Linked DNA regions of Homo sapiens. The protein of the gene in region 6 purifies or fractionates together with the protein of the main gene of each other region. This does not show direct contact. Each region holds a gene or a part of one and is shown on either strand. Other genes may lie near its edges.

Region 1 (3,500 bases), on a different chromosome or scaffold from region 6:
AGAGAGATGATCTCCTGAGGCCTTGTCCAGTCCTAGGATCAATGGTTCTGGGTCAGGAGAGGAAAAGACACTGCTCCCTAAGAAACCCCAGTCGTCAAGCTGGGGGGTGTGCCCACGCACAGAGCCAGGGAAGGCATTTACCCCAGCTTCATCAGAATCAAGGCTCCTGGAGGGTTATGGAGCGGGTCCTGGGTGTCTTCCTGCAGACCGGGGGAGAAGCCAGCAAGAAAGGGCAAAGAGGGAAGGATCTAGATTTTATAGGCCAGGGGCCTTCTAAGTGGGATGGATATACCCCAGGACGCACTGAAGATGATCTTTTGGGGGTACAGGAAGAAACTATTGGACTCCTTATTAAATGTACTTTTAATGTCATATTTTAAAGGTATATTTCTGTTTATCATGGTAAATACTCAATTTTTCTTTGGTTATGGGTTGTGTATGGGATCAATATATATATATATATATATATATATATATATATATACTGCAAACTGCCATATGACATCACCTTATCACCAGCTTTGTGGGGCCAGGAGCCTTGTCTGTCTCATTTTCTGTTCAACCCCCAACTTCTACCAGTGGGCCTGGTTTGTAGGAGGTGCTCAAATAAATGTTTATGGAAAAACACGCCCCTGCTTGATGACTGATTTTCTTCTGATGTTGGGTAAGTGACTTAACCTCTCTAGTTTATCTCCTGGCTATAGAAAGAGGAGTAAAGCACAGTTTGAAAACCAATAGTAGATGGTTCCATTTGCTGAGGTCACTAAAGAAAGCATGAAAGCCACTTAGTGCATTTTACCCCCAACCATCCATAGGAGCCACGCCCTATGGGAGGGGGTGCAGGAAAGAGGCATATGCAGTAATTTTCTAAAAAGTGTAAAATTATGACTCATGCAGATACAAAAATGATCATGTGCTGTTCTACTTATTAATCAATGACCACACCAGGCCGATGTTATAACCAGCTCAAAAGACACATTTGTATTGAAAGAAATGTGCAATTAGAGACAAAACTCTTTTTTTACCTGAGGGGGTGGGAAATCAATTGGACCTTTACAAAATAGGGCAAGGAGTATGTATTAGAATTACTTTGTGTTACCATCAATTATTTGCAACTTACTGACCTGTAAAATCACTCAAAGACAATGAAAGTCTCGAGTCAGACAACCTGGAGGGTTTTCCTTTGAAGTACAGATTCTTTCCCATAATACCTTGGAGGCTGGCAGCCCTTATCTAATGGAGAAATGATAAATCCACAGTGGTTGACCAAAGCCAGTCAAATCAAGGTGGTTTCAGAGCACCCTAGCGGGGGAATACCTTCTGGCTTGTTAGAAAAGGCGGCATTTGAATCCAGCAGATAACAGTGGTTCTCAGCCTCCTTGGCTGCCATTAAAATCACCTAGGAAAGTTTTTAGAAATTACCAAAGGCCAGGCCTCACCCCAGCAGTTGAGTCAGAATCTCTAAGGGCTGACCTTAAATCTTTGGTAGTTTTGAAAAATTCCCCAGGTTCTGTTAGTGAAGCTAGAATTGAAAAGCACTGGTATAGATTCTGGAAAGCTGGATTAAAAATGTTGGTGGAAGGCGTTCCTGGTTTAGCAGGGAAGACAGGGCAAAGAGGAAAGTGGTGATGGCAAAGAAGTCAGTAAGGAGAACCAATGGCCTCGACTGCTGAGCTTAGAGGCCCAGTATTAAGGGGCACCATTGGAGACTTGTGAGCAGAGGAGTGCTGTGGCTCAGGCTGTAGCCCCTCAGGCACTCCCCTGAGGCAGAGGTCTGGGTGGGTTTTTTTGCATGATTTTCCATATTATTTCTTTTTTCTCAAATCACCCTCCCACCACACCTGGTTTCACCCCCTTACGCTCAACATCTCCTTTCCCTCAAAAGTGTACTCTGTTCCTCCACAGCCCAAGCTACCTTTCGATGACAGAAATGCTTTTTCTTACCCTGGTGTTACTATTCTTCCTGGCATGCCCCTGCCTCCATTCCATTGAATCCAGATTTTGACTGTGCACCTCTATCAGCCTGCACCCCTAATATTTTCTTTAACTTTATACATGTATAACAAATAAAAATGGGACATAAAAGGGCAAGATTAAAACATTTGGAAAGTGGTGATACTCTTGTCCTGCACCCCAGTGGATTGTCATACCCATTACCCCTTTTTGGAGACTACTGCTGTAATAATGATGATTGTGGCAACAGAAGTCACCGTTTGTTAAACATTTAATCTGTACCTGGCCATGCTAAGTGTTTTACCTGCCTTATTTCATTGAATCTTCACAAAAACCTTACAAGAGGGTCATTTCAGGATGAAGAAACTGAGGCAGAGAAATTCCATAACTTGCCCAAGTTACTGAGCTCGGAATTTGCATGGTCAGGATTTGAACTTGGGCATCGACCACAAATCCTGCATTGATTCTAATGCCACATTGCCTCCATTGTAAATGTTTGGGCTTATTATAATAAAAGCCACCATTTATTGAGCCTTTACTGTGTGCCACGCACTGTGCTAAGTGTTTTCCCCCCGTTACTTCATTTATTTCTCAGTACCTATAGGTATTTCTATCTGCATTTTGCGGATGTGGAAATTGAGATTCAGTTTAAGTAACTTACTTACATCACAAACTGCTGGGCAACATCTGTGCCTGAAGGCCCATGCCTTCACATGACTTGGATAAAACCCTTCCCCTATCCACATCTCTGTGGTTGGGCAGTGGTGAGCCGTTCCTTCTAGAGTCAGCCTGGAACTCTCGAAGGGGAAGGAGGAAAACGTGATTGATTGCAGGCAAAAGGATGAGGCAAGGGGTGGCCACAGCAGCACAAAGCCACCCAGGCCATTCATTCTGCTCCTGTGTGGGTTTCACGAATGATCAGTCATGATAAGTCGTCACAGTATATCTCATCTAGATCTGAGAGAATCAGGGTTCCTGGGAGGAAAGAGGCACAGGTCTGGAATGACCCTGTTTACTAGTCTTGAACAGCTCTTTCAACCAAGGTGATGAATGTTGCATATTGGCGGGTGGAGATGGGGAGGAATCCTGTGGCCTGGGAGATGACCCTCCTAGGACTGATATTCTGCTGTGAAAATCCTGAGTTGAAGTCTCTAAAAGCCTCTAACTATAGATCCTACCAAAGAGGGAGTGATGTATTGTCCCACTTTAGAGATGAAGAAACTAAGGCTGAGAGAGGGATCTGGCTTGCCTGAGGTTACATGGGGGCAGACTGGGAACCAGAACCAGGGTCTTATTCTTTGGACTCTTCCTGGTGTCCCATTGCAGCCAAGACCCACAGTTGTGTGGGGACTTGTTATGATCGAGGGCTGCTAGGCAGAGATGTTGGCTGCTTCCTGGGCCCTGGCAAGTCACTTTCTCTTTCTGAGATGCCTTTACCCCGTCTAGAAAATGAGGGACTTGGAGTCATGGATTATTAAGGGCCCTTGTGGGATTCAGAAACACTAGATGTAAAATATTCAGCCAATTTGAGCAGTATGGTCTAGGTT
Region 2 (3,500 bases), on a different chromosome or scaffold from region 6:
GTAATATAAAACTTGCCCTTTGGTGTTGAATTCAAATTCACTTCTGCACTATTTTCAATCTGGGTTTACAGAATTATAAACCCTTGAATTAGTCCGTTTAAGGTTTTTATTCTGTTAAATAGTATTCAGAATGTGTGTAGTACATTAGCAATGGCAACATTTAAACTTCTTAATTAGTTTTATTATGTTTAGATCATCTGTTTTTTAAAGAGAACTTTTCTGGGAATTAACATTTATGAATTGTTCACTTTTTAATAAACAAATATCACACAGATACAAACAACTTAATGTTTTTTTCAATTTTTTTCTTTAGAAGCAGCATTAAGAGGTCTTCTGGGAGCCTTAACAAGTACCCCATATTCTCCCACCCAGCATCTAGAGCGAGAGCAGGCTCTTGCTAAACAGTTTGCAGAAATTCTTCATTTCACACTCCGGTTTGATGAACTCAAGGTAGAATTATCTATTGGCCCTGATTGTTACGAAAATCATGAATCTTTTAATGAGTACTAGGAGGAAGAGCCGGGAAACATTGTTAAAATGTATTTAAATGATGTCTGCTAGACCTTAATAAAAATGCAAAGCTGGATTTAGAAATTAATGACGGGTCTTTTGATACATGGCAAAGAGCAAATTACTGAGTATTCGGTCTCAATCTTTTTTTTTTTTTTTTGAGGCAGAGCCTTGCTTTGTCACTCAGGGTAGAGTGCAGTGGCGTGATCTCAGCTCACTGCAACCTCTCCCTCCTGGGCTCAAGTGATTCTCCCACCTCAACCTCCCAAGTAGCTGGGATTACAGGCATGTGCCACCACGCCTGGCTAATTTTTGTATTTTTAGTAGAGACGGGGTTTCACCATGTTGGCCAGGCTGATCTCGAACTCCTGACCTCAGGTGATCCACATGTCTCAGCAGTCTTCATTTAACCTTGTTTAAAAATTAATCTCCGAAACAAAAGGTTGAGCTTTTTTTCTAATACTTTTTCTTTTCTGCTCACACCCTCTACCCCCGTTTTTCAACATTCTTTTATATTAAAATGTTGCTAAAATTTCTTTTTTCTCCCTTCCTCCTTTCCCGCTTTCTTCCTTTCTTTCTGTTTCTTTTTTCCTCTGTCATTGTTTATAGTGTTTGGAACTATAAATACCTTGTTGTTAAAAAGAATGAATGTAAAGGAATAAGCACTAGGTCTCATATCAAGAGACCTGAGTTCCAGTTTATACTCTGCCACAGTAACCCTAGTCATGAGACGTTGGGCACGTCCTTTGATTTTTCAGGGCCTCTGGTACCCTGTCTAGAAAATGGAAGAGCTGGATTCCAAACTTCAGCATTTTATAGTTGTATCACAGTCAGATTTGTATGTAAAATTCTAGTTTGAGGATTGCTCTGTTGACCATACCTACATACTTTTATCGTAATAACTAAAAACAAGTGCCTAAACAGTCCTTTTTGTTTTTGTTTATTTGATAAACAAGCTTTTAGTACATTACCTGAAATTAACTGAAAAGAAAAGGGAAAGTATACTGCCTGTGGTCTTTCGTTTTATATGTTCAGTAAGGACTAAATACAGTTATAAGCCACCTTGGATTATACCAGTGCTAGTTCTTAAAATGATACTATGAATTATGGAATGTTTTATACTAATTAAAACTAAAGATTTTTTACTTAGTTTTTTTACATTAGCATTTAGTACATAACATTTTTTTTCCACAACTGTCTTCTTCAGATGACAAATCCTGCCATACAGAATGATTTCAGCTATTATAGAAGAACATTGAGTCGTATGAGGATTAACAATGTACCGGTAAGTTAATGCTTTGAATTAGGGGGATGGTAAGAGTAACTTAGTGCTCAGCCTGTTCATTTTATTATTTTGTTTGTTCATTCAGATAGTGTTAAAGCTAGTAATAAAGTTAGTAATTATGGGCAGCCATAGCTGTAGGAGGAAAAGCAAACTGTAACAAACCATATGGTGTTTACCTGTTTTTCTTCACAGTCTCTTAAATTCCCACAACTACTTCAACAAAATTGCTTATCTGTATAACGTTGATCCTTATAAAATTTCGCGATGTACTCTCATTTTAACTGTACAGAAATTCTGTGAATTCATAGTTACGAGTTTTTTGTCTCTATATTCTTAGAATGGAAGAGTCTTGGAGAGAAATTGACGTGGGTTAATTTCTTGGAGAGAAATCTTGAACCCAAGTCCGTTTTCCTCCAAGAAATTAATGGTTAATGCTGGCAAGAGGTGATAGTGAGGTCATGGCCTGTTAACACATCTGTGCCTGATATAGCTGTTTGAGAAAATGGCTTTGTGCCTGCTCCTTGGCTAGTATAGCATTTCTTCTGGCTTCTTTAGGTCTCTTAACTTCTTACCATCCTCCTCTTAAGCTGTTTATTACTCTTTTCTACCTCCAAGGAACTAAATACCATAAGTAAAACTAGAGCGGAAGAAAATATTAACTTGTTCTCTGTGTTTCTGAGAACCTTATAATTGGTCTGAAAAATTTCAAAGATCAACCCTTGTTTCAAATAGATAGTTTAATAGAGAAATACTGTAACTATGTAAGGAGTAATAAGTGGCATAAGATATTTAAAATATATATATCAAAGACTATCATTCATTTTCTTTTTCCTTGAAAAAATATTTTAGGAAGCACTTGCACTAAGGCACTGAGTTGGAGGAAAAGATTCCTCTTTATGAAACATCTGTAATTTGCATCAATTTGATTTTTGCATAGACCAGTTCCTCGTGTGAGACTGACCTTAACATCTGTCTTTTTCATACCTACCATGTAAAATAAGATAAAAGCAAAAAGCAAAGCAGCCAATCCTATACTATACCCATCCTTGCCATCACTTAAGGCTAAAGACATTAGTCATCTTGGTTCTCCCTTTTACCCTCAATAATTACAGGTAAAATCCAATTTTTTTCAAGTGAAATATCTCTGAAATGTCTTCTCCATCCCCCTTTCCATCTCCTCCTCCCACTGTTCCAACAGAGAGCCTAATTCCCACTCTTTCTGGCAGTCACTCTGCACAGCATAACTCATTTTCGGACCTACAAGTCTTTTTCCATTTTGGTACAATCTGCCCACGATTATCAGTTAATTTTCTTTAGGAAACTGACTTAGTTGTCATTCCTTTCATCTAACACACTGAATGGCTCCCCATTCCACATGGAAGAAAAATATGAACTTAAGCTAGCATTTATGGCACTATACAGTCTGACCCCAACCTGTATCTTTCGTTGGTTGCAGCCCCTTATTACACTGAATATGCTGAATTACTCTTTAGGGAGTCATTTGAAAACATACTCTTTCCCCTGCCAGATTGGAATACCTTGTTTACCTGCCCAATATGACCTGCAAAAGGATAACTCTTCTCCTTAGTTTCTTCTGTTCCAACTTAATGTTCTCTGACTCCCTTTTTGTGTTATCACCTGTTAGAATCTTACCATGGATGTTGTATGGATACTTATTGTTCATAATGGAGGACGGTACAATTTT
Region 3 (2,744 bases), on a different chromosome or scaffold from region 6:
ACTTGTTTTAAAAAGTAAAGTTGTTTTTGAGCTATAAGCATTGATATATTTACTTTTTATATATTTCAGGACCACATTTTAACCCCAGCGCTATTCATAACTTTTATGACAATATTGGATTTGTAGGTCCTGTGCCACCAAAACCCAAAGGTTAGTGTATCCATTAAATGTGAAAACTGTTACTTTTGAAAAGCAAAATTTTAGAAAATTTTTCCTGTTCAGCAACCTTCCTCTCTAGAATTGCTTCAAACTTTGGCATTCTTAAATGAATTCATTAAGAAGATGTTTGCTTATTTTCATTTACATGCTTGGGGTTGGGAAGGATGCAAAGATGTAATATTCTTAGCTTTTTAAAAGTAATATGCACGAGCTTAGGAAACACTATGTACTCCCAACCAATAATAGCAAGTCTTGGTTAAAAAACAATTACTAAGTACAAAAATTTGTATCATTTAAAACTTTAGACAAATGATAAGGAAGATACCTTAGGGAAGTTCCCCCCCCCCATGAGTATTTAGTTTAATTTATATATAACTTTAAGTAATCAAAATACCCTAAATTCCAGGTGAATAGTTTTCTACCTTCTATCATTTTACATCATTGATATTCTCAGAATATATGCACACCAAACTAAGACATTTCAAAGTATGTCTGTGTGTTTTGATCCAGGCATTAAAATGTGTGTAGAAATGGAAACAGGTACATAAATATCACTGCTGAAGGTAAAAATATAGACATATTTACAGATTAACACTTAACCGTGGTATATAATTTACTTTCAACTCTAATAAGAAAGTTAAAAGGTAAAAATGTGTTAATGGATACATAATATTAAAAGAAGAAAACTGCAAGAACACAAAAGTGTGGGAGGGTGGAGGTTGTAAAGATGCAGTAGTATTTTTGTATGCATTTGAAGTTAAGTTGTTATCAACTTAAAATAGAAGAGTATAACCAAATATAATCAAAGTAAATCACGATTAAACGTTGTCGAATAACAAGACAATAAGAGGAAAAGAGGAGCAAAACAGTTGTCAAATAGACAGGAAGCAACAAACTGCCAATAGTAAGTCCTCACTTATTAGTAATTACCTTAACTGGAAATGGATTAAACTCACCACTCACAAGGAGTTGTATGAATGGATTTTAAAAACAGGATCTGGCAGCAGCCAATGGGAGGCCCCAACAGCTCGTGCTGGCGCACACAGCGGGAGGGGAGGGAGCCCAGGATGTGCACGCACCCTCTCCCTCATCCACCGCTGTCACCTCCTGCTGCTCTTCCTGCTGCTCGTGTACTCGTTAGGTGCGGACCCGCCACCTCTTTTGTGAAGCAGCAGCTGAGGAGACTCCGGTGTTCACCATGGCCAACGAAAAGCCCACAGAAGAAGTCAAGACTGAGAACAACAATCATATTAATTTGAAGGTGGCGGGACAGGATGGTTCTGTGGTGCAGTTTAAGATTAAGAGGCAGACACCACTTAGTAAACTAATGAAAGCCTATTGTGAACCACGGGGATTGTCAGTGAAGCAGATCAGATTCCGATTTGGTGGGCAACCAATCAGTGGAACAGACAAACCTGCACAGTTGGAAATGGAAGATGAAGATACAATTGATGTGTTTCAACAGCCTACGGGAGGTGTCTACTGAAAAGGGAACCTGCTTCTTTACTCCAGAACGCTGTTCTTTAAAGACCAAGATTACTGCATTCTCAATTAGAAAACTGCAATTTGGTTCCACCACATTCTGACTACTACAGTATAGTTTTCTCTATTCTTTTGTTTCCCCCTTCCACATTCTTTTATTATACATGAAGTAACTGGTATGTGTACACAAGCATATTGCTTTTTTCTTCAAACCAAACAGCCAATGGTATGTTTTGATTGACATCAAGTGGAGACAGGATGGGAAAAAATACTGATTCTGTGAAAATACCCCCTTTATCCATTAGTGGCATGTTCATTCAGGTCTTATCTTTATATTCTAGTAAGTTATTTTGCTCTCACTGTTTTAACAACAACAAAAAAAAATTCTCACATACCTTGTTCAATTGGAGGATTTTCATGTTTTTCATTTATCATTGTAAAACCAAGGACAATTTTATAACTTTTGTGTACATAGCTGTTACATGTAGGGCAATCTGTCTTTAAGTAGGGATAAATTACTCTAAAAAAAAAAGAAAGAATCCTAGAAAGTTTTTCCTTCAAGTCAGGCTTCTTATTTAAATAAACTTTTTGTTTAAAATGAAATAAAAATAAAAACAGGATCCAATAATATACTATCTACAAGAGACTCATTTTATATTTAAAGACACACATAGGCAGAAAGTGAAGGGATGGAAAAAGATTTTATATAAATGGTAGCTAAAAGAAATCAAAAGTGGCTATAATTATATCAGAAACAATAGATTTTTAAGTCTAAAACTTGAGACAAAGATTATTATGTAATGGTAAAAGGATCAATTCCACAGAAAAATATAAAAATTATAAATATATACACACCCCACATCAGACTACATTAATATGTAAAGCAAATAATGACAGTTCTGACGACAGAAATTGACAGCAATAGTAGGAGACTTCAATACCCCCCTTACAATAATAGAATATCCAGGCAGAAAATGAATAAAGAAACAGCTGATTTGAACAAGCACACACGGAACATTCTGTAGGATAGATCATATGTTAGTTCACAAAACGAGTTTAAACAAACCTAAGAAGATAGAAATCATTCCACGTATTTTTTCTAA
Region 4 (3,500 bases), on a different chromosome or scaffold from region 6:
AAAATCAACGGGACTTTGTGCACAGACTGTAGAGTCATACAAACCTAGTTTTGAATCTAGTTTTTCTCATTTATCAAGCCATGTGACCTTGGGCAAATTACTTAACCTCTCTGAATCTCCCATTTTTCATCTATTAATTGGGAGATAATGATAGTACCTACTTCATAGGTTGTGAAGATTAAATGAGATAACACAGTGCCTAGAACATAATTGCTTTCTTTCAGAGCTTATTATTTGTGATCATTAGATAAAGGGATTAATTGTAAGGAGAAATAACTTTAAGATTATCAGGTAACTGCTGATTCTGGTTATATTATTAGCCAAGATGAAGAGAAGGAAAAAATGGCAGGTTTGGAAAGTAGCCAGGAGGTAAGGGAAATGTGGAATCACAAGTTCACTTTAAGTCATATGAAATTTGAGATGATCAAGGAATGACCAACTAGAAATGTTCATGAAATAGTTAATATATTTAAAGTGCTTAGAAAAGTGCCTGGCCCAGAGTAACCAATATATACATTACTTATTGTTATTATTAGCAATAGCAACTGAAAATGGAAGGCTGGAGCTCTAAAGATAAATTGAGGCTAGAAATAATATTTTCCCTAATGTCTAGCCTCTCAATGGCCAGTGTGGAGCTGGATATTATTTCTCATCCATAGTTTTACAGCGAGAAGAAAACAGAAAACTTGGCAATGCCAAGTTCAGTAAAGATGCTGAAAGCTGTCAGAGGTGGAATAACAGGAAATGTTTCCAAAAGAAGGGGCAGAATTAGCTATGTCCATCTTCTCTAAGGTCAGAAGTTGATGACAAGATCAGAAGTTGGTCTGAAAGGCTATGGTAGCAGTGGGTTGAGCCGCCGTTGGTAAAACAATGATGTGAAGACAACTAAAAAATGACTTTTGGGCAGAGGAAGTAGTTGTGCTGAGGATGGGTATTTTGTTTTGTTTTTCGAATGGTTGGCACAGAAGTATGTTGGTGGGCAGAGGAGTAGTGAAAAGCAAATGGTTAAAGATAAGAGGAGGAGAAAAAATAATCAGTCTAGCAAAGTTCTAGGGGAGATGTGGACAGATGCCTTTTGAGGGGAATACGGAACATCTCTGTCTTTCTGAAAGAGTGTACTACTCTGGGCCAGGCGCGGCGGCTCCCGCCTGTAATCCCAGCACTTTGGGAGGCCAAGGCGGGTGGATCATCTGAGGTCAGGAGTTCAAGACCAGCCTGACCAACATGGTGGAACCCCGTCCCTACTAAAAATAAAAAAACAAAGTAGTTGGGCGTCGTGGCGGGTGCCTGTAATCCTAGCTACTTGGGAGGCTGAGGCAGGAGAATCGCTTGAAACCAGGAGGCAGAGGTTGCAGTGAGCCAAGATTGCACCATTGCACTCCAGCCTGGGTGACAGAGCAGGATGTCATCTCAAAATAAAATAAAATAAAATAAAAAAATAATAAAAGTGTACTATTCATACTGAATTATAGTTACTTACTCTCCATATTCTCATTATATTACATCTTATTATTTACAGCCTTAGATTAATTGCCTCCACCTACTTCATTCATTACTTCTATCCAGTTAATCTGATTTTTCCTACTAAATGACACCTCTTTCAAATGTTACATACCGACTTCTTTTCTAATTTCTCCTGCAATATCAGAATGTATTCTATTTTTATCAGCAAATTTTCAGTTTTTCTCTAATAAAGCTACCAAAAAGAGGATGAGACTAGAATTCAAAGAAAGAGCCAAAAGGAAAAAAAAATGAGATTGCTTAATCTTATTCAGTTATTCTAATATCCTTTATTAAATTCTCTAAAGTAGAGTATTTATCCAGTGAAGTAAAATGCAAGCACAACACTAGAATGAATGTGTAGTCTTAAGCTTAGCCCCTAAAAACCAACGAGGAAGGGAGGAAATTATTTAGACAGCAGGATAGGGGAGATGGAATGGTCACTAGAACCTCCACAACCAGTTAAAAATGGTCATTTCCAATTTAAATATATCTCTCAACGATTTATTGCTTTGTTGTTAACGTCAACTATTACTTAAGTAGCTGATGTGGGGGATAGGGGAGATGGAACGATCACTAGAACCTCTACAACCAGTTAAAAATGGTCATTTCCAATTTAAACATATCTCAACAATTTATTGCTTTGTTGTTAATGTCAACTATTACTTAAGTAGCTGATGTGGTTTTTTTAAAACTTTAGCATACTGTGTTTCTTTCTAGGACATAAACTTCTTTTTTTATTTTATTTTCTTTTTGAGGCAGGGTCTCACTCGATCACCCAGGCTGGAGTGCAGTGGTTGAATCTCAGCTCACTGCAACCTCCACCTCCTGGGCTCAAGCCATCCTCCCATCTCGCCTTCAGAGTAGCCAGGACTAAAGCACGCACCACCACGCCCAACTAATTTTTGTATTTTTTTGTAGAGATGGGGGTTTTGCCACATTGCCCAGGCTGTTCTCAGATTGCTGGGCTCAAGAGATCCACCCATCTTGGCCTCCCAAAATGCTGGGATTACAGGTGTGTACCAACTGTGCCTGGTCCTAGTAAATAAACTGTTAACAAAAACTTCTTCCCTTCTTCCACTTTAAGACAATATAGGCCAACTCTGGGTGCATTGCCTATGAGTTAGCCCTGCTCCTCAAGGAGCAGTTAAAAAAACAAAAAAGGGCCGGGTGCGGTGGCTCACACCTGTAATCCCAGCACTTTGGGAGGCCAAGGCGGGCGGATCACCTGAGGTTGGGAGTTCGAGACCAGCCTGACCAACATGGAGAAACCCCATCTCTACTACAAATACAAAAAATTAGCCGGGCATGGTGGCACATGCCTGTAATCCCAGCTACTCGGGAGGCTGAGGCAGGAGAATCACTTGAATCCAGGAGGCGGAGGTTGCAGTGAACGGAGATCACACCATTGCACGCCAGCCAGGGGAACAAGAGCAAAACTCCATCTCAAAAAAAACAAAGAAAATATCACATGTTTTCTGGGTATTATACTGAGTGAATCGAAAGCCCACTATTGAGTCTGTGTTTTAAAAAAGAAGGGAGAAGCAACCCAAGTTTTAAACAACTGCTTTAGTGAATCAAATAGACTTTATTTTATTTTATTTTTGAGACTAGGTCTCACCCTGCTGCCAGGCTGGAGTGCAATGAAGCGATCATGGCTCACTGCAGCCTCAAACTCGTGGGCTCAAGCAGTCCTCCCACTTCAGCCTCCCAAGTAGCTGGGACTACAGGCATGTGGCGCCACACCTGGCTAAGTTAAATTTTTTTTTTTTTTTTTTTTTTTTTTTTTTTTTTTTTTTTTTTGGTAGAGACGGGGTCTCACTATTTGCCCAGGCTGGTCTTAAATTCCTGGGCTCAAGCAGTCTTCCTGCCTTGGCTGCCCAAAGTGCTGGGATTATAGGTGTGAACCACCATACCTGGACAGACTTTTAAAATATCTCCATATCTCAATTTTTATCTAATTTATATCAGTGCTTAGATTTATGACTTTTTAGGACCTG
Region 5 (3,500 bases), on a different chromosome or scaffold from region 6:
ATGTCAGCTTGTATAAGATACAGGTGCCCTCAGTAGACAGAGAAACATTAGTATAGATTCTTTTCTAATTATTAATGCTTTTAGTCATTTTAAAAAATATATAAAATAGAGGAAGATCTTTTTTTACATTGGAACATAAATGTTCATTCAGATGTACATAGGCTATATAAAGTGTTTTGGTTTGAGATTCTAAACATTTTCCTTTTATTAGTGCAGATAATTAAAAATTTAATGAATTAAAACTGATAGAAATTATAACAATATTATGAGCTTGTTATTTAAAAAAGCAAAGCTGTATTGAATAAAGTAAAATATCCCATTGACTATTTTTCCTACCTATGTGGTTCCTCTCTTTAAAATATAAAATTGATTAGGTGTTTTTAAAACAGAAAAGAATAAAGAAGACAAAAATTGGCCAAAATTTTACTATTTAGATAACTCCTAACTTTTAAAAAGTAAAATTAAATTAATTCAGATGTGGATTTTAAAATGCCACAGTTAGGACTGAAAGGTAAAGATCTCCCCTCCCCAATGCCTGTGAACAAATCAGCCATTCTCAACAGGTCCATGTAATTAATTTCAGAAAAACATTGAAAATTTACTTACTCATCTGTTTTTCCCGCTTAAAAAGTTCTGTAAACACTTCTGCACTTTGCTTTCCACATTGAAATGTATTTATTCTTCCCTTTTTAAATGGTGAATAGTATTCCATTTTCTGGATGTTTATTTAACTATTCCCGTATGATAAACATTTTGTTTCCAGTGCATCTTTGCAATTAAACAGGATTGTCGTGATCACCTTTGTACATATACCTTGACAACTTTTGAGACTATATCTGCATTACTCTCTTCATGAGTTTCGTCAGCTTAGGCACACATTGGCAGACATGAGACCGATGGTTCCCTCACACCATCAACAGCACTGGGCATCATCAGACTTTTTAGATTTTGCCATTTGGATAGGTGAAAAATGATTGTTTATGTCTTTTGTTTATTTTTCTTTTAGTTGGTCTGTTTTTTATTGGTTTGTATAAACTCTATAAATTAGGGAAATCAGTTTTTTATCATGTTTTGCAAATATCGTTCCCAGTTAATCTCTTGACTTCATTTATTTTCTTATTCTACAATGGTCTTTTACTTTTTGTGGGGTTAAATGTATCGCTTTTTTTCTCTTTTGTGACTTGGATTTTGTATCCTGTTTACAAAGACCTTTTCTCTTCTGTAAAATTACAAATAAATTTGCTCTTCTGGAACTTCATTTTTTCTTCCATTTTGGACATTTGACCTTTCCATTATTTATTTTGAAGTAAGGCATGAAATAAGTGTATACTTTTTTTTTGACAGTTCTCATACCATTTATTATTATAGTTCCTCTTTTTTTTTTTGCACGTTAAGTGGTATATATTATAACAGATATTAGGAAAATGCAAATTAAATCCACAATGAGATACTACATTATAACTATTAGAATGGCTAAATTGGTAAGACTGAGAAGCTCTAAGGTGAAATGTTCAATAAATCATATTTAAAACTTCTTATCTGTATTAAGTAAATATTATTTTGTTTAATATTTTTTCTAGTAATTTCTGACATTCTTTTTTTTTTCTTTTTTTTTTTTTTTATTATACTTTAAGTTTTAGGGTACATGTGCACATTGTGCAGGTTAGTTGCATATGTATACATGTGCCATGCTGGTGCGCTGCACCCACTAACTCGTCATCTAGCATTAGGTATATCTCCCAATGCTATCCCTCCCTCCTCCCCCCCCCCCACCCCACAACAGTCCCCAGAGTGTGATAATCCCCATCGCAAGAACAAAAAACCAAACACCACATATTCTCACTCATAGGTGGGAATTGAACAATGTAGTTCCTCTTTACTAATAATTTGAACCATCATCTTTATCATAAACAGATTTCTTGCTCTTTTTCTATCTATACCAAACTGATTTAATGATGTGTGGTTTCAAAATAGGTTTTAGTATCTCCCTCTCACATTCTCTTTAGGATTTTTGCAGGTGATTCCTTAAAATTTTTTTTCCCATAATCTCAAGAAAAATATTAGGATGATTTGAACCTACCTAAAACTTAACCTGTATCTTTTAATAAGCATTAAGCTTTTTTTTTTTTTTTCTGGAATGCTGGGATCGTGTGATCTGTGGGACATAATACTTTAACTTTTAATTCTTTATGAATCATCTTAGGAGGATGTCATGCACTGTGAGAATGTGCCATATCAAAGATTCAAAACAGAGGAAGTGTGTTTAGATAATCAAATCACAGCAAAATTGGTGATGAAAGTTAGTTTATGGTATTACATCACAGGCCACCTTGTAATAAGAAAAATGGCTGAAAGTAATTTTTTTGCAGCTATATCTTTACTAAATAATTCTGATAAGCTTAGAAGCTTGATTTTTTTTTTCAGTCCACAGAAAATTACCAGTGTAAAGAGGAGCTGTGATTACTGAAAGAAAAGAAACCAAAATGTAAGAAGCTGACCCAAGAAAGTGAAGGGCAAAGAGCCATATTTACCTTAAAGTTTCAGAGGCCTCAGGCAATAATTAATATGTATAAGCGTAACCTTGAGCTTCACGAAAAGTTTAAACTTGGTTACTTTTCTCTTATTTACAAAGTCAGAGACATGTATAACATATTTTAGGAAGATTTCAATTTGACATATAAAAAAGAATGAGCATTTTGATACTTAGGCCTAAAGTAAGTATCTGAAAAATACTGAAAAATGGAGGTATTAAAAAAAAATTGTAGGCCAGGCATGATGACTCATGTCTGTAATCCCAGCATTTTGGGAGGCCAAGGCAGGAGGATCTATCACTTGAGCCCAGGAGTTCAAGACCAGCCTGGGCAACATAGCAAGACTTCCATCTCAACCACAAAAAAATTGTAGGTAGTAAACACTTTAAACATAGTACAATAGACGCTCATTATGGCACTGTCCTTTAGGGATTTGGAATTGCATTATTGGTGAAACCATAGCATAGAGGCTAAATGTGTTGGCTTTGGAATTAGATCTTCCAGGTCTGGCCTTCTTACTAACTAGACACTTTGGGTGAATTAAGCACTCAGAACTTGAGTTTCTTCAATTGGTGAAAATGGGAATGATTGTAATACCTACATAATAAGTGTAAACTGTGTACCATTGTGCCTGGCATATGGTGAGTGCTAGTAAATATTAGCTGTTGTTACTAATCAGCATCCTCATAAATTTGTTTAGAAGCAAGATTACTTACAGAGCAACTAGTCCAGCTCCCTTATTTTATAGATAAGGAAAAATTAAGTGTGAAAGCCCTTGACCAGTATCATAGTGCTATTTGAGATTGAAATTTAAATTCAGTTTTCCTGAACTTGGATGAGGGTTGGTTGGTTGGTTTTCCGCTACACCATTGTGTTTGCTAATGAAGTCATCTTGTGCTAGCTGTTACCTCTAATAAATTATTCTTTTTGTCCCACAACATCTGCTTGGCAAATTTCTTCTTCTTCCTG
Region 6 (4,054 bases):
GCATTTTATAACTTAAAAGAAATAGATGATTGTAACAGAAGAAAGAAAACTTTACATTGTGAGAAAATTTAGACCTAAAGCTTATAGTAATGTGAGGACGAAAGTCTATACTGTTTAAGTAAATAGGTTCTATGAGCAGCATCCAGGCTAACATCACACAGTGGTATTTTGAATTAAATTGTACTTGTGTTTTGTTTCCGTGTTTTGCTGCTGTAAGGAAAGAGGAAAGCATCCCCTTTCTCGGCCCTCCTCCCACGTCCAGGCTAATTTGCAGCATTTCTACATCTCAGAGTCCACCCTTAAGATCCTTGCCACCCATTATTTTGTTTCAGAACGCTTAATCCATCAAGGAAGGTTAAATTGGATTACCCCAGTAGGGAAGGGACGGGGGCTGTAAGCATGAGGGATTATCCCTGTAAAGGGCTCGTGGTGTGTGTGTGTGTGCGTCCTGCTAGTGTTGAATGACGGAGACCTGAGTTTGGATTCTGAATCCAGGTGTATTCGATGCCGCTCCGGCGTAGAACGGGTTAAAGATGCCCCCAGCCAGGTAGAGCCAGACTGGGAGTTGTGCAAGGTCTCAACCCCCTAAAAGCGGCCCCTCAAATTGAAGATGAGTAAATCATAGTTCGTAAATCAGAAAGATTATCCAGTACTACGTTACTCTGTTTATTTCCCTTTCGTCATCCCTGAGTCTTGGGTCAAGTCCATCCCAGCTCTGTCCTCCAGGAATCAAGGGAAATACGCAAACCCGCGGTGGGTTCGCAGCCGCAGGAAGGACAAATCTTGCCCCCGCCGCGGCGGCCGCCCCGCGTTAGCTGCCTAAGAGAATCTCCGTGGCCGGCCAGTACCCGCCTTGGTGAGGATTCTCCCTCCCGCGAGAACTTCTGGAATGCCGCCGGGCCAGATTTTGCAGCTGAGGCCTCCGACGCCACTAATATTGGGCCAAGCAGGGAGTGCTGCTCTTCCTTATAAGGTTTTAGCGAAAGTTAAGTAAGCCAATTAAAGTGCAAAACACACAGTCTGGAACAATACAGCGCTCTATAAATGGTCTCCATTATTATCATTATCCGTTAGTTATAACTGGGGATAAAAAAAAAAAAAAAACGACAAAAACCTGGAGAACCGGAAAGGTCTGCAAAAGGGGCGGAACGCGGGAACTTCGATTTGGGGAAGGGGTGGCGGGGGAGATCCCACACAAGCAGCCAATCCAGCTGTCCCGGGGAGGAAGAGGAGGAGTCAAGGCCCGCCCCTGGTCTCCGCACTGCTCACTCCCGCGCAGTGAGGTTGGCACAGCCACCGCTCTGTGGCTCGCTTGGTTCCCTTAGTCCCGAGCGCTCGCCCACTGCAGATTCCTTTCCCGTGCAGACATGGCCTCTGGCACCACCACCACCGCCGTGAAGGTGAGATGAGCCCTCCCAGCCGCAGCGGTTCGCCCTGCCGGATGCCTTCTCGCCCCCGCGCCGGGGGACCGCGCCTCCGGGGGCCATGCGCCCGGCCCGTGCGTCCCTTGCCGCCGCGGGGAGGGACTGGGGCGCGGCACTCGGGACTCACTTGCCGCGCGAGGAGAGGGTACGCTTGCAAATGATCCCCCTGCCGCACCGCCAACACACACACACACACACACACACACACACACACACACACACACACACACACCACCTTTTGGCTTATCTGCACCCGCACCCTGTAGGGCGTAGGCACCCCTTTAGAGAGAGAGGTCGTGGATGGGAGAGGCTGCACCCATGCCACCACCATTCCTGAGAACCACTCTTCTTCCAAGAAAGACACCCGGCTGGAGTCAGGAGGTGTCCGGGCGCCTGCAGCTTCTGTGACCGTCTCCTGGTGCCTTGCGGGACTCCAGCTTCCGCTCTCTGACTCTGCTTGTTGCCTGCGGCCCACGTGGGAGAACTGCTTACTTGCTCTTTTGTATGCTTCCGGCTTCTTTTTCCTCCAAACGTAGGCCTTCTCCGCGCTGAAGTTTTCCCCAGCAGCGTAATACTGTAAGAATTCTGAGACTTTCTTCGAAAAGGAGTACAGGCGTCCGTTTTTAGGGCTGCACTGTTTGGAGGCCTCTGGCTTGAAACTGCTTTGTTTTGCAGCCTTGCAAGTTAGAGTTCAATTTCCTTGTGCCCTAGGCCCTGAGAGGCCTTGATACAAGGGGTCATTGTGCGGTGGGAAGCTTTGTGCTGAGGAGGGCACGAGTTCTGAGAGTAGCAGCTGGCTTCCCTGGGGTTTTAAACACTTCTCTCCTGGTTAGTATTCCGAGAGAGAATTACAGCACGTAAAGAAAAATTGATGATAAAACTTAAGACCTCTTCTAGGCAGTTTATTACTGGCTAAGAATGCGTTCTTGTTTGATTTTTAGAAATTTTTGGCCTATGGGATAGGAAGGTCTGCGATCTTCTCCAAAGCATCTCGATTCCCTACACTCGACTGCAGTTTTCCCGGGAGAAGGCGAATTTCTGCGGTCAGTGTGTAATCAGCCAGATTAGTTTATTACGCCCTTGCAGGTTTAAATGAGCCACTTAGAATGAGAGGAATGGTGAAGGGTGTTGCATCCAGACTTATATATGAAACTTATTTTGTCATTTTGAAAAGAATCTTGCATCCAGCAAATATTTATAGAAGGCCTCTCCCCTGCCTTCATTGTTTGGCGGAAACAAGGCAGAAATGGTTTTCATGAAACTCGTGTGAAGTATGTGACTTCTCTTAGGTGCTCATCTATAAACTGAGAATTTTACTGCAGAATTTGCTAGGAGGGCTAGAATTATATTGTCTATGTTGCACATGGTAGAAGCTTATTAAGTGGTAGTGCTTATAAGTGGGGGAACTGAGATTAATTTTGAATGATCTTTTCCCCAAAAATTATTAAGTTATTGTGTTAGGTATCATTAGGCCACAACTTTTCACCTTATCCTTGCAGGAATACACTTCAAGCGCCATTAAAAATGGAGAAATGGTGTTTAAAACAGTCTTACTTTAATCTGGTTAGCATTCTCCCTGCCACAGGGTTTCCCTTCAAATTAATGCAGTGCATTTAAGTGCAGAATGGGCAATGGGATTCTCAGAGACCTGATGTAAATATTGAATAGTGTGTATTTTTGGTCTTGGCAAGCTTCTGGATATAAAATTAAGAGGTACATATGGTGCTAGGACTGCCTGCTGATTTCTCTTTTAATTTAGAACAGATGACAGCTTTGCCGTAGAGATTCCATGATGCCAGCACCGTATTCCCCAGACTTCTAAGGCAACATTCTGTATAGAAGATGTGAGGTGCCAGTGTCCAGAGCAAAATAGGTTAATAAAAACCACATCCTATTCCCAAATTATAGAATGATGGGGCTGGAGTGTTCCTTCAAGACCATCCATATAGCCACACAAACCCGTTTTGCGGGTGTAAAGTTGAGGCCCAGAAAGGTCAGCTAAGTATCCAGAATTACACAGCTGGACCTAGATAATGACAGAATTGGGCCTAGAGCCTGGCATTCCACCAACTAGATGTGAGGCATTTCTGAAATCTGAAGTGTGGTCTCTGCCCTGTTTTCTTGTGACCTAATGCACAATTAAAATGAGCACTTGATAGAATGTCCATCTTGAAGAGGGAGGCAGAGGGTATGCAGAAAGCAGGCTGCCTCCAGTGCCCACTGCACACCACCCAGGTATAGGTATAGGAGGCACATGTGTGTCTGAACCCCATTGGTGTCACTGGCAGGTCCTTTGAGAGGTTGCTGGATTTAAATACAGTAACATGTAACACACTCAGCCCAGTTCCAGGTACTCCTTTAATGTCAGCCCAAGTACCTCTCTTCTTAAAATAGAGATATTAACGGGGTGGATCTTAAATTCATTCTCAATTTTAGAGGTGCAGTTAACTCATGCAAGTGAAAGATTCCACTGAGTTTTGGATTGGCAGTATATTTGGCATATCTTTCAAATCTAGCCATCTACTGGTGGAATCCTATTCAAAAATATTTATTGAATACCTGCTAGACAATGGGGATGCAGCTTTGAGTAAGCGAGGCCTTTATTTATTTTCTTCAAGTTTATATTCTAG
Region 7 (3,500 bases), on a different chromosome or scaffold from region 6:
TAGTAATTCTACTGGTATGGATCCTGAACACATGGTGATGTCATGCCTGTTCCCCCTTTGATGACTGGGAGTTAGGGAGGTGTGGTTTACATTGGAAGGGCCTGGAGGTTCAAATATATTCTCTGGGAAGGCGTCACTTTATGTGTCATTCCTCAACAGCAAGAGTGAAGAGGTATTTCACACAGCATGAGAGATCTTTTGGGATATTGTAAGTAAAGTACCTGTAATGACTTGAGACATCACAAGTGTCTGCTGCTCGAAGCCTAATTTTCTTTTTTTTCTTTTTTTTTTTTTTTGAGATGGAGTCTCACTCTGTCGCCCAGGCTGGAGTTCAGTGGCCTGATCTCGGCTCACTGCAAGCTCCGCCTCCCAGGTTCACGGCATTCTCCTGCCTGAGCCTCCTGAGTAGCTGGGACTTACAGGTACCTGCCACCACGCCCGGCTAATTTTTTTTTTATTTTTAGTAGAGAAGAGGTTTCACTGAGTTAGCCAGGATGGTCCAATTTTTTTTTTATTTTTAGTAGAGAAGAGGTTTCACTGAGTTAGCCAGGATGGTCTTGATCTCCTGACCTCGTGATCCGCCCACCTCGGCCTCCCAAAGTGCTGAGATTACAGGCGTGAGCCACCGCGCCTGGCCTGGAAGCCTCATTTTCTATCAGAGCAGCCGTCACTGCATTTATTTCAAGTGGCTGCTGACGATTGTATTTGGTGGGTCTTTCCTTTAGCAATGGCTCTCTAATGCCAGCATGCATCGGAATCACTAGGTAGGCCTGTTAAAGCACAGACTGCTAAGCCCCAACAGCAGAGTTTCTGAGGTAATATGTCTGAGGTGAGGCCAAGAATTTGTATTTCTTACCAATTCACAGACCATATTGATTCTGCTGGTCTGGGAACCCCACTGTAAGAGCCACCACCCAGAGCAGTGGGAGTCAGGGAGGCAAGCAACAAACATTTACAAAATCCACAGAGCAAACCCAACCTCACCCCTGATATTTCTCCCTTGACTGTTGCAATATTTTGGTCTACCTTCAGTGGAGAATTGGAAGCTAGGCCAAAGTTATTATTCAGGGAAATAAGACATGGTTTCATACACTACTGCTTACTTTCTCTGTAAGTCCAAGAAAGATGGAAAAATCCAGTATTCTAAGAGTTACAAGGCTGAGTCAAGACTGATATATAATAGAAGTATAATAGCTCTGAGACAAAGAACTTTGACTGCAAGACTGATTTTTTGTATTAAAAGTAGAAATAGAAAGTAGAGACTGTCCAATCCAAGTTGACACACCCAAATGACTTCTCTTTTACCTTTTTTCTTTGCCTTTATCCTTTTCATTTACTTTTTATTTTCATAGACATACATAAGATACCTTGGAAGTAATAAAGAATTTAATGGAACAAAATCCTTGTTAAAGTATCTTTATAGCATTAAGAATTCCTGGGTTGGGGCCTTACAATGCAGAACCTCCAGTCCTACTCCCCAGGAGTTATAACTTAGTAATATGGGGTGCAGGATCACACTTTGGATAACATTACTTTGTGACAATGTAGGAAATAGGGAGCTCTGTATTGTCAAGTAAAGCTGTCAGTTGCTAGGTGAGACTCTTGCTGAAAACACTTGCCAGGTGAGACAGAGAAAGCTACCATACCATCAGCTCCTTTTTTGTTTAAGACTAATATTTTCAAGGAGTTTTAGGGTCACAGCAAAATTGAGAGGAAGGTACAGATATTTTCCATATGCCCTCTCTCCCCCACAAATGCACAGCCTTCCCCATTATCAACATCCCCTACGAAAGGAGCACATATTGCAAGTAATCAGCCTACATTGGCACATCATTATCATCCAAAATACATAGTTTACATTAGGTTCACTCTTGCTGTTATACATTCTATGCATTTGGGCAAATGTATAATGACGCATATTCATCATTGCGGTGTCATATCAAGTACTGCCCTAAAAAGCTTCTGTGCTTTGCCTTTTCATCCCTCCCACCCTCAACCCTGGCAACCACTGATCTTTTTACTGTCTCAAGAGTTTTGCCTTTTCTAGTATGTCATAAAGTAGGAATCATACAGTATGTATGCTTTTCAGATTCCACCAGCTCTTAGATAACCAGACTCTATCTCATTTTTGCTATCCCTCCATCCAGAAAATTCCCGACACTTAGTTGATCCTTCTTTGAGGAATGTTTTTCTGTTCTTGGAAGAATGGCCTGGAGCAGTGGCTTTCAAGCTCACTTGAGGAGCCCCAGCCATCTACCAAAGCATCCAGGGTGGCTGTCAGGGAGCAAAGCCATTCCAAGCTGCAGGGCTCTGGGCTGACTTCCAACTTGGAACAGAGCTTTTCTAATTATCGCTTTTACTTTTGACTTTGTGGAGGATATCTCTGAAGAAAGGAGTTATTGCTTAACAAATATTACTTAGTACTTACCACATGGCAGACATGGGGATGTTTTTAAACATTGAAAACCAAAGCTTTAGAGTAGTATCTGCTTGTCCATCTGGCTGCCTCACAATCATCCCAGGAGACTGCCCCAGAATCTGAATATTTAAGATTCTTGGGTAATCCTGAAGATCAGTTTAGCTTGCAAATCACCAGGCAACACCTATAACTCTCAAACTTGCCTGAAGATATGAATCACCCAGGAAGCTTATTAAAAATATGGACTCCCAGAATTTACCAAATCATTCTCTCAGGAGAATGACCTCAAAATGCATATTTTAAAAGAGATGCCCCCCTGCAAACTCCCATAAATAATCCAAGAAGCTTGGGAAAGCAGGCTGTGTATGGCCATTTTTTATACTTGCACAATTTTGAAGGCTTTGTCATTAGGCAGATATGACACTTGGTTGTGATACGACTAGTTTTCTTTTCTTGTTTATAAATTTATTTCATTTATCTTATTGTTATTTAGAGACAGGGGTTCCCTCTGTTGCCCAGGCTGGAGTGCAGTGGTGCAATCATAGGTCACTGCAGCCTGAAACTCCTGGGCTCAAGCAGTCTTCCTGCCTCAGCCTCCCAAAGTGTTGAAATTACCGTTGTGAGCCACTGTGCCCAGCCTTTTGTTGTTTTATACTTCGTGCACATCACAGAGCTTCCTTAACCTCAGCGCTTTTTTATGCACTTAAATTTTTGACCCCCAGTTGCAGAAATCAGCTTCTACAAGTGGCCCTGACTCCTGTGTGCCACTCTCATCCAATGGTGCTTGATGTGGGCTTCTGAACTGGCAAAACAAGACAGGGAAGGCTGGAAAGAGGCCCTCTTCCCATCTTGTCAGTCCAAGAGTGCTGGAATTAGGAAACATAACAAGAATAACATAACAAGAAAGTGAGCTAGATGTGAACTGGTTCCAGAAGGCAGATTTCTGGTCATAGTGTTATTTAGAATTTTGGCAATCATTAACTTAGTGTACTAGTCCATTTTTGTTGCTTTAAAGGAATATTTGAGACTGGGTAATTCATAAAGAGGTTTTATTTTAGCTCACGGTTCTGCAGAGTGTACA

The links.
Region 1: the proteins of MTAP (region 6) and ANXA6 fractionate together in Homo sapiens (co-fractionation; one large-scale study listed by BioGRID). This does not show direct contact.
Region 2: the proteins of MTAP (region 6) and CYRIB fractionate together in Homo sapiens (co-fractionation; one large-scale study listed by BioGRID). This does not show direct contact.
Region 3: the proteins of MTAP (region 6) and SUMO4 fractionate together in Homo sapiens (co-fractionation; one large-scale study listed by BioGRID). This does not show direct contact.
Region 4: the proteins of MTAP (region 6) and NT5C3A purify together in Homo sapiens (affinity purification with mass spectrometry; one large-scale study listed by BioGRID and IntAct). This does not show direct contact.
Region 5: the proteins of MTAP (region 6) and MTPN fractionate together in Homo sapiens (co-fractionation; one large-scale study listed by BioGRID). This does not show direct contact.
Region 7: the proteins of MTAP (region 6) and TAGLN3 fractionate together in Homo sapiens (co-fractionation; one large-scale study listed by BioGRID). This does not show direct contact.

What each region holds. Positions count from the first base shown.
Region 1 is NC_000005.10:151,151,280-151,154,779, reverse strand, and holds part of ANXA6 (annexin A6), read left to right. Parts: intron 1-3,500. UniProt on the Homo sapiens protein: May associate with CD21. May regulate the release of Ca(2+) from intracellular stores.
Region 2 is NC_000008.11:129,852,561-129,856,060, reverse strand, and holds part of CYRIB (CYFIP-related Rac1 interactor B), read left to right. Parts: intron 1-313; coding exon 314-450; intron 451-1,717; coding exon 1,718-1,795; intron 1,796-3,500. UniProt on the Homo sapiens protein: Negatively regulates RAC1 signaling and RAC1-driven cytoskeletal remodeling. Regulates chemotaxis, cell migration and epithelial polarization by controlling the polarity, plasticity, duration and extent of protrusions.
Region 3 is NC_000006.12:149,399,035-149,401,778, forward strand, and holds SUMO4 (small ubiquitin-related modifier 4), read left to right. Parts: upstream 1-1,227; 5' UTR 1,228-1,357; coding exon 1,358-1,645; 3' UTR 1,646-2,244; downstream 2,245-2,744. Other genes in the region: TAB2 (TGF-beta-activated kinase 1 and MAP3K7-binding protein 2), read left to right, coding at 70-150. UniProt on the Homo sapiens protein: Ubiquitin-like protein which can be covalently attached to target lysines as a monomer. Does not seem to be involved in protein degradation and may modulate protein subcellular localization, stability or activity.
Region 4 is NC_000007.14:33,056,277-33,059,776, reverse strand, and holds part of NT5C3A (cytosolic 5'-nucleotidase 3A), read left to right. Parts: intron 1-3,500. UniProt on the Homo sapiens protein: Nucleotidase which shows specific activity towards cytidine monophosphate (CMP) and 7-methylguanosine monophosphate (m(7)GMP). CMP seems to be the preferred substrate.
Region 5 is NC_000007.14:135,967,360-135,970,859, reverse strand, and holds part of MTPN (myotrophin), read left to right. Parts: intron 1-3,500. UniProt on the Homo sapiens protein: Promotes dimerization of NF-kappa-B subunits and regulates NF-kappa-B transcription factor activity. Plays a role in the regulation of the growth of actin filaments.
Region 6 is NC_000009.12:21,801,382-21,805,435, forward strand, and holds the start of MTAP (S-methyl-5'-thioadenosine phosphorylase), read left to right. Parts: upstream 1-1,254; 5' UTR 1,255-1,367; coding exon 1,368-1,400; exon of another isoform or gene 1,401-1,485; coding exon of another isoform or gene 1,486-1,569; intron 1,570-4,054. UniProt on the Homo sapiens protein: Catalyzes the reversible phosphorylation of S-methyl-5'-thioadenosine (MTA) to adenine and 5-methylthioribose-1-phosphate. Involved in the breakdown of MTA, a major by-product of polyamine biosynthesis.
Region 7 is NC_000003.12:112,005,422-112,008,921, forward strand, and holds part of TAGLN3 (transgelin-3), read left to right. Parts: intron 1-3,500.